Linked DNA regions of Homo sapiens. The protein of the gene in region 1 interacts with the protein of each later gene in a pairwise test. Each region holds a gene or a part of one and is shown on either strand. Other genes may lie near its edges.

The links. The genes of interacting proteins can lie anywhere in the genome.
Region 2: the proteins of TRAF3IP3 (region 1) and STRN3 interact in binary tests that used the Homo sapiens proteins (3 or more experiments, as listed by UniProt).

The regions. Positions count from the first base shown.
Region 1 is NC_000001.11:209,775,586-209,780,649, forward strand, and holds part of TRAF3IP3 (TRAF3-interacting JNK-activating modulator), read left to right. Parts: coding exon of another isoform or gene 1-3; exon of another isoform or gene 4-13; coding exon 14-151; coding exon of another isoform or gene 152-539; intron 540-1,766; coding exon 1,767-1,902; intron 1,903-2,525; coding exon 2,526-2,588; intron 2,589-3,622; exon of another isoform or gene 3,623-3,729; coding exon 3,730-3,789; coding exon of another isoform or gene 3,790-3,818; exon of another isoform or gene 3,819-3,845; coding exon of another isoform or gene 3,846-3,868; exon of another isoform or gene 3,869-4,884; coding exon 4,885-5,021; exon of another isoform or gene 5,022-5,064. UniProt on the Homo sapiens protein: Adapter protein that plays essential roles in both innate and adaptive immunity. Plays a crucial role in the regulation of thymocyte development.
Region 2 is NC_000014.9:30,910,683-30,915,382, reverse strand, and holds part of STRN3 (striatin-3), read left to right. Parts: intron 1-1,725; coding exon 1,726-1,859; intron 1,860-3,200; coding exon 3,201-3,376; intron 3,377-3,558; coding exon 3,559-3,606; intron 3,607-4,220; coding exon 4,221-4,342; intron 4,343-4,700. UniProt on the Homo sapiens protein: Calmodulin-binding scaffolding protein which is the center of the striatin-interacting phosphatase and kinase (STRIPAK) complexes.

The sequences.
Region 1 (5,064 bases):
TGATCTCCCTCAGCGATCCCTGGCCCTGGCAGAGCAGAAGTGTGAAGAGTGGAGGAGCCAGTATGAGGCTCTGAAGGAGGACTGGAGGACCCTTGGGACCCAGCACAGGGAGCTGGAGAGCCAACTCCACGTGCTTCAGTCCAAACTGCAGGTACCAGGCACTGGGGGTGGGGAGGGAAGACAGGGTATGGGGAGGAGGGATGGTGATGAAAGAAGCTGTTCTGGATTAGGGACTCCAAAGGCAGCTGACAGCATCTGGCTTTCAGTTCCTCAGTCACCACTACTTTGTACCAAATTCACTGTTTTGGCTCTGAAATCTAATTTTGAGTTTAGCAAGGATGTCTGCATTGCTCATGCAAATGAACTAAGCGTTCATTGGAATGACACCATCACCACCCAAATGAAAAGAACTGGCTGGAATATTCATCAGCCTACTAATGTCATCTCCCAACCCACTCTCCAAACTCCATCCCAAAAAAGCATCCAGTTCAGAATTGCCCACTGTTGGCAAAGAAAGAATGTCACTAATTTATTTACAGGTGAGTATTAACACTTTCTGCCAATGTGTATTTTAAGCAATTACATTTAGCAATTACAATTAGATTCTTGGCATCCTCAAGGGTTCCATCATCTTCAATCTGTCCTAAGCCTCAGTTTCCCCATCTCTAAAATGAGGATAATAGTACCTACATCATAAGGTGGTTCTGAGTATTAAGTAAGATGATCCATGTAAAGCACTTAGCACAATGCCTGGCACACAAAAACACTCAGTAAATATTAGCTATTATTTTGCATAGATTTATTTACCTGGTTTGGAATTTTGAGGATCCACCTCAAAAGCTGATCTTTGTAATTTTCCTGAAGCAGGGCTCAGAACAGCCCACTTGATAAGAGACAGAGTATGTGAGTCTTATCAAAGGAGTGAACCCAGCTGGTCACTCTGCGTGGTATCCACAGCTCAACCTTTGTTGTTTTCTTCTTCCCATCACCTATAAGGCAACTCCTATGAAGATTTTTGTGAGGGGTTTTTTAACTTTAAATCTTTGTGGAAAAAAAAAGACCCTAACCAAAAAAAAAACTGATACTGCCAGAAGTAGAAAAAAGAGAAAATGAAAACATCCAGAAAACTAATGACTTTGTATTCCTTAATTTGGTGATTTACCAAAGTGTCAAGACATGACTCCCACACCAATGACAACCACTTACATTTCCCCTAGAATGGCAGATTTTTTAACGTACTGGGTTTCCTAAAGCAATTCTTATTTTATATATTCTAATTTATGTACATGAATGTGTCACTTAGACCTGTCACTAGGGATGGTTTAGAAAATAAACTTACACTGCACATGCCTCAGTCCACTTCAAAACTACTGGCAAATGCCTGTAGTCCCAGCTACTCAGAAGGCTAAGATGGGAGGATTGCTTGAGCCCAAGAGGTCGAGGCTGCAATGTGCTATGATGGCACCACTGCACTCCAGTCTGGGTGACAAAGTGAGACCCCATCTCTAAAAATAAAAATAAATAAATAAAAGACGCGAGTTCCTTGTGAATATCAAAAGTCTAATCTGCTGTTATAAATATGAGGAACAAAGCAAAGGGAAGAAATAGGAAAAAAGAAAGACTTCTCTATTTTCTCATCTCCCTAACATTCCTTCTATCTCTAAAATTCCAGACTTTTCTACATTTTCCTCTTCCATGGTACCCGCCCCCCAACCTCCACCCCAACACTGACCTCCTTCTATATTGGCCCTTCCTCCTCCTTACAGGGAGCAGATAGCAGGGACTTACAGATGAACCAGGCCCTGCGATTTTTGGAAAATGAGCACCAGCAACTGCAGGCCAAGATTGAATGCCTGCAAGGGGACAGAGACCTGTGCAGCTTGGATACCCAGGACCTACAAGGTACTCTTCTCCTTGGAGGCCTTGAGTGCATGGCAGCCATGGCCAAGTGAGCTAAGAAAAAAGAAACTGAATTAAGAGAAAGGCTTCAGCCTTTTATTTGTTTGCTTGATTGGTTGATTGGCTTTATAATCTCATTTTACCTTGAGGGAGAGGCAGGACTGTTTTAATCATCCAAAATTGAAAATTAATTTCACTGTAGTAGATAGAGTATCTTGTTGTCTGAGCTCTCTTTTTTAGCCCATCCCTCTGGGCCAGATCACAGCTGCTCCCACATCAGTCACATATGTCAAGGCCACAGTCCTAATTTGAAAGGGAAAGGTCAGTTGAAACACAAGGCATAGAGAAAGTCTCTCAGTCACATCCTCTGTGTCCGCTGATAGAGAGGACTAGATAGTGTGTAAACACAAGCCTCAATGCAACCCAACATTGTTGATGCACAAAAACCTGAGGTACTTGGCTTCTGGTTTACCTCTTCAGAACTGGGACACGAAGATAGAGCAACTTCCAATAGACACACGTTAAAGACCATGACAAGACAGCATCTATTACTAATTTCCATCCTAAGTACTGAGTTCATTAAGTCTTGGGTTCCTTTATTTTGGCTTGCATTATTGCATTTTCAGATCAACTAAAAAGGTCAGAGGCAGAGAAACTCACCCTGGTGACCAGAGTACAGCAGTTGCAGGGTAAGTTCGCTTTCCAGATTCTGAAAGTCCACAGGGTTTTCCTGGGGTCCTGGCCCACAAAAGGCACCCAGAGTAGGGACTAAGGGCCCAGTCTTTGGCATATGCTCTAACTCTGTGCACTTTCAGACCCTCTTCTTGTAAAGTGAGGTCATTTACATAGCTCTCCATAAATTATGTGTTAGCCTCTGTTCTTTTTTTTCTACTGTTCTCCTTCCATGCCAATGACACCACTTACATTTCCCCTAGAACTGCAGATTTTTTTTAAATACTGGGTTTCCTAAAGCAGTTCTTATTTTATATATTCTAATTTATGTACATGAATGTGTCACATAGACCTGTCATTAGAGATGGTTTAGAAAATAAGCTTACACTATACGTGCCTCAATCCACTTCAAAACTACATATTGGGCCCAAAGAGGAAAAGGGACTTCTCAGAAGAAAAGCAGTTTCTGAAAAGCTGGAGAACCTGACTCAATTAATACAGCTGCTGGTTGCCCACCACTTTAACCTCTGACACCTGATAGAGAAGCTTCATGAAAGCAGCAATGATTATTAAGAGAGCAAAGCAACCACAGGGAAAAGGGAAAATCTTCAAGCAAAGACTTGAAGATAGAGACATGGTAGGGGGAGATATAAGGATGCTATATTCATAGCAAAGTACCACAGACTGGGTGCCTTGAAGAACAGAAATGTATTGTCTCACAGTTCTGGAGACTAGAAATCCAAGATGTCAGCAGGGTTGTTTCCTTCTGAGGGCGTTTAGGGAAAGATCTATCCCAGGGCTCTTTCCTTGGCTTTGTAGATGGCCGTCTTCTCTCTGTGTCTCTTCACATTGTCTTTCCCATGAACATATCTGTGTCCATATTTCCCCTTCTTATAAGGACACCAGTGATATTAGATTGGGGCCCACCTGAATGACCCCATTTTAACTTGATTATCTTTTAAAGAATCTATCTCCAAATAAGGTCATTATTTAAGGTACTGAGGGTTAGGACTTCAACATATATATTCTGGGGGACAAAATTCAACACACAGCAGATGGGAACATATTTAATAACCAAGGTTCTAAGCAAAGTTCTGAAAAGAAAACTTTTTGTAGTAAATATGCTAGCATAGACAAGTTCCTTGTGTTTTCCAACAGGTTTGCTTCAAAATCAATCCTTACAGCTTCAAGAACAGGAGAAACTCTTAACAAAGAAAGGTCAGCAAATTTATTACCACAAATTCTAAGATATTGCTCTTCTCTTACCTGCCTAGAGGCAGCGGGATGGACTACATGACCTCCTGGAGTCCCAGCCAGTTCTGGGAGTCTGTTAAGTCCGGGATGTGTGGGAGCTTTTTAAGGACTGATCATTGGCTCTGAGGACACTTCAACTAGTTAGCCTTCTATCTTGAGGTATATAAACTGTGAAAAAGGGTTTCTATTCTCTCTGAAAGCACATGTCTGTGTTGAACATTTCAATAAATTTATTTTGAACTCAGGATTTCATGTCAATTTTTACACACTTGATTTTCCAAATCACATCCAACTCCCCAGCCCCAAACCACATAGCAGTCCAGAGTCAACTCACTGTTAGCCCTAGAGAGTCTACTGTCCATGTTTCCTGAGAATTCACTGTGTATACAGAGGGGCAATAGCTCCTCACCTGTCCACTACACACGACCTTTTGTTTTCTCTTCACAATCATTGGGCATAATATAATAGATAAGGCAGAAATTTTTATGCTCACAGAGTATGGATAAGAACATGAAAGTCTATGGTGACACAAACTAACAACACAGCTATAACAACAATCCAAAACTTCTGACTCCTAGTCCATGCTCTTTTCACCAAGACTAAGACTGCAGGGTGGCTAAAAAACCATCTTTAACCATATGAAGATAAATTTTAGGATATGACTGCCATCTTCACAACTTTCAAATGAGGACATCAGGGAAAAGGGATTGTATTAAAGCATTTACCAAACTTATTTGACAAACTAGGAAGAATGTGACATACAACCAATGAAATTCAATTAAGAAGTATTCACTAAAACTATCTAGCACTAGATAAGACTGGGGATACAAAGAAAAGATCCCAATCTTGCCCTCAAGGAGCTCAGATTCCAGCTGTCTGTCCAAGCTTAGCAGGGGCCTACTGGAAGTTAACCTTTATGTCAGAGAATGCCATCAGTCTAGCCAAGAGCACGCCCTCCCAAGTTCCCTCCCCTCTCCCCACTCCTAGTGGTTTCACCCTCAGGGCCCTTCCTCAGAGGTGTGGGCCTCACTGTCACCAAGAATCTGGCTGCTTTTTTAGATCAGGCTTTGCCCGTGTGGAGTCCAAAGTCCTTCCCTAACGAAGTGGAGCCTGAGGGTACAGGGAAGGAGAAAGACTGGGATCTCAGAGACCAGCTGCAAAAGAAGACTTTGCAGCTCCAGGCCAAGGAAAAGGAGGTGAGAGGGTGACCTGAGATAGTGAGGGCTCATTTGCGAAATA
Region 2 (4,700 bases), on another chromosome or scaffold:
TTAGAGCCCTATTTGAGTCAGATTATATAGCTTATTTTGATAGGATAAAATAATAAAATAACAAGATATTCTAAGTACAGTTGAATTTTATTTTGCCATAGTATATATATGAATTGTGTCTTCTCAGAATTATTTCCAGTAGTTTAGTGATGACTGTCAAGTTTCATTACACCTGTTGTGTTTCCTGTAGCATATTTATATCATTTTTCATGGGAATTTTTTTAAAATTGATAATCAGCTTGATTTTTTGTATAATGTGTCCCTTTTAAATTTGCTCATGAATTTTAAGTGTGTTTTGATATATTGAGTTTTATATTATGATTTGAGTATTTCTCCCTTGTTATCTTAATGTTAAAATTTTGCTTTCAAAGCATATTTGAAATGATATTGAAGGTTGTTGCTTAAACTATGACTGTTACAACAAAATATTTAGATAATAGTCATTCAATTATGGCAGAGTTTAATTGGTCAGTAGTATGTATAGAAAGGAAAACGCATTTTAAATAATTGGAACTGTTAATATTAACATGAAAAGCTGTAATAATGCACATGATATAGTTGAGAAAACTAAGTGAAGCTCAACCTGAGTTTAGTTTGAAATTGAAATGGCAAATCTGATCAGAAATTAAAGCTCTGTGGTCAAGATTACTTGCTTCATTTTAGAGTGTCATGGTAACTAGAATGGGACATTAAAATAAAAGTCATAGTCAAAGCTTTAAAGCTGGAAGACAGGCTGGGCGCGGTGGCTCACGCCTGTAATCCCAGCACTTTGGGAGGCCGAGGCAGGTGGATCACTTGAGGTCAGGAGTCAAGACCAGCCTGGCCAACATGGTGAAAGCCCATCTCTACTAAAAACAGAAAAATTAGCCGGGCGTGGTGGCGGGCGCCTGTAATCCCAGCTACTTGGGAGACCGAGACAGGAGAATTGCTTGAACCTAGGAGGTGGAGGTTGCAGTGAACCGAGATCGCACCACTGCACTCCAGCCTGGGCGACAGAGCAAGACTGTGTCTCTAAATAAATAAATAAATAAAGCTGGAAGACATTCTGAAGACCACGTGGATTAACCTTTTATAGAAAGGAAACTGACATTGTTGGTGGAAGAATTTTTTCCTAGACCATTGCTGTTACTAAAGGAATCTGAACAATTAAAGCTTCATTCTAGTGAACTGATATAGTATATAGCTGACTGTAAACCATTTACATTTCAATGTTTGTACTAGTTTTTATCAGGGACTAGGATGCCTAGTACTTCTTTAGAAAGCAAAAGGACTTGGTGACAACCTATTAACATTTAAAAAATACTATATGACTACTTTGAGGTCCTTGAGGTCCATGGTAGAGGTTTCCCCTCATGAATGCAAAAATCTGATATTTAACTCCATTATTTAATCAAAATTTGTCCTATTTCTTATTTAACATGTAAACTATAGTTATAATTGTACTGAAGTGATAAGAGATTTAGACAGACAAAGCTTTTGTGCCCTAGCTTCCACCCCAGAATAATATATCTAGTGCACATTTTATTTGTGGACAGTTAATACACCACAGTTCCAACACATTTGTTTAACACTGCTTAGTAACAGGATTTTTTGAGTAGAAGTGGGAAAATAAAAATTAATTATATTACTGAATATTGTAACTGTTAAGTGCTTAAATTTTCCCCACAATATTGTCTTGTACTGTATGATTTTTCAGCATTTAAGAAGCGGTTTTGTTCTTTATAGCTGAACCAATAACGTTTCCATCTGGAGGAGGCAAGTCATTTATTATGGGTTCTGATGATGTTTTGTTAAGTGTACTGGGCCTTGGAGACCTTGCAGACTTGACGGTAACAAATGATGCAGACTATAGTTATGATGTAAGTGCAGTTTTATTTTTAATTTTTTAATGATTTAATAGAAGGCTCCTTATTTTTTGGAATCACTTATAAAACAGAATTAATATCAAGGTGCATGGAAAAGATAAGTTTGTGTCAATGTGTTGATTTGAAGTGACATGTTTTTCTTTTATAACTACTCTCTTTGTGGTATTTAAATTTTTTTTTTAGGTATTTTGGTGGATTAACTAGAAGTTTGAGATGATTAATATATTGGTCAGTAAATACATCTTGAGTAGTCAACTCTCAATTATCTCAAATTAAGCCATATTTTGGTGTTAACAAGAAAAAAAATAACCTGAATCATATATTTGCCTTCAGAGTACTTCTTAAAAAGCATGTTTTATTTTTGAACTTTTATTTTCTTAAGGAAATATTTTAAAGTTTCTGAACATTTTAAAGTTAGCTTGCATCATTTCCTGAATACTTAACTCCTTCATTAGAGGATTGGGGAGTGGATGGAAGGGTTGGGGAGTGGGGAGTCCAGTGTTAGAGGTGAAACTTGTCTTGGATTTAATTTTTTCTAGTCATTAATATTTCAATTGAGAGTTAACTATACTTGTTAGATCTTTATGTTAATTGCAGTTTTTCAGCAATTTTTTTTTCTTTTTATAATGAGTTTCTTTTTTCCACGTTTTATACTTAACATTAGCATGCTTAGAGACAGCCTTTGGTGGGCTGGATTATTCTCATTAATATATTTTTTTAAGTATATAAGTGACTAAATTCCAGTAAACTTTTGACTGCTTTAGAAGTGGTTTCACAGCCTATCTTTACAGATGGAGAAATGTGAAGGTAAAAAGATAAACCTCTGTCAATATCAAGAATTATGAAAATGGGATAAAAATATTCTTAAAGGGTCTTTAGTTCAGACTTTCAGAAAGTACCTTAACTTGCTGCCTTTAATAATTTCACATGCTAATACGTTTTCTAAATGACAACTTTACTGTTAATACTGTACCGTTGGATATTTGTAATAACTTATGTAATTATTTTTCATGTAAAGTATTGCAGCAATGGTAGTTATTTTGTTCTCATCTGACATTTAATGGGAGCTTTGGGTTTAGCTTAATAGGTAAAAACAGATTAAGGAACTCTTCATTTGACCTAGGCTATTTGTAAGGCGAATGAAATTATTCTGAGTTATTATTAAATGATAAAGTTTTTTTAGAAAGTTTTAAAGGTACATTAAATTTCCACTGGACATTTTAGCCAACAGTTTTAAATATATGTGTTAAACACACCAAAAAGAAACGAACAAACACTCCACATGCCTTCCAGTTTACTACTTTTACCACTAAATATTGTGCTCTTTCCTTTTAGTTGCCTGCTAATAAAGATGCCTTTCGAAAGACATGGAATCCCAAGTATACACTACGTAGCCATTTTGATGGAGTACGGGCATTAGCTTTTCATCCTGTAGAACCTGTGCTGGTTACTGCTTCTGAGGACCATACCCTGAAACTTTGGAACCTGCAAAAAACAGTTCCTGCCAAAAAGCAAGTATTTTAGTGTTAGCCTGGTGTATTTCTTCCAATTTTGCTAATATAAGTAATTATTCCTCATTATTGTTGCATGTCTTTAATGCACACATTTGATCTAATGACTATTTAATATCAACCAGTGATTCATAGTTATTTAATTGCCTTCTCTTCCCCTACCCTTTTTCCCCCTCTTTTAGGAGTGCCTCTTTAGATGTAGAGCCTATCTACACATTTAGGGCCCACATGTAAGTTTTACTGAATTGGTATTTAATTAACATCATCATTATTGTTAAATATTATTTATCGGTCCTCAAACCTTGTAATTTTCTCAATGTTTTGTATTAGAAAAGATGTATTACTTGAATAATAGCTATTTAATAATTGTATTGGTGAGACTATGAATATAATAGTACCATTCAGGCCAGATGCAGTAGTTCATGCCTGTAATCTGAGGATTTTCGGAGGCTGAGGCGGGCAGATCACTTGAGGTCAGGAGTTCGAGACCAGCCTGGCCAACATGGTGAAACTCCGTCTCTACCACAAAATACAAAAATTAGCTGGGCATGTTGGCGTGCGCTTGTAGTCTCAGCAACTCAGTAGGCTGAGGCAGGAGAATCGCTCGAACCTGGGAGGTGGAGGTTTTACTGAGCAGAGATCACCACTGCATTCCAGTCTGGGCTGGTGACAGAGTGAGACCCTGTCTCCAAAAAAAAAAAAAAAAAAAAAGTACCAGTCAGGTGTACATGTTCTCTTAAAACAGTTTTTAGATATTACATAAATTCAGAGGTTGGGGGAATGGAGATTTGAGTTTCTTCTTAGAATTTATCAGTAATTTGTTTTTCCTCTCTTCCTACAATAGCGGCCCTGTTCTGTCATTAGCTATTAGTTCTAATGGAGAACAGTGTTTTAGTGGTGGTATTGATGCAACCATCCAGTGGTGGAATATGCCGAGTCCCAGTGTAGATCCATATGATACATATGGTAAGTAAAATGATCAAAATGTATTTTTTTTAAGTGAATGGAGCTGACAAAAGTAAATACCTCAAATATGATTACAAGGTTATTTAAACCTATATTAGTCACCTCATTTAGTTCTTCCATTTGCTAATAAATTGCTTTATTAAAGAGAAAAATTAGGAAATGTCATGCCATGGGTATTTAAGCCTATGAATTGATACTTTCTCTGTTGTTTAAAAAACTATATTAATTAAAATGTTAATTTAGGTAGTAGTTACAAAAAGAAGGAGGAAACAAAATGTAATCTAAGTAACAAAATTTTGAACTTAAGAAATAGTTTATATATTTTAAAAATATTAAGCAAAAGACAATGGAACCAACA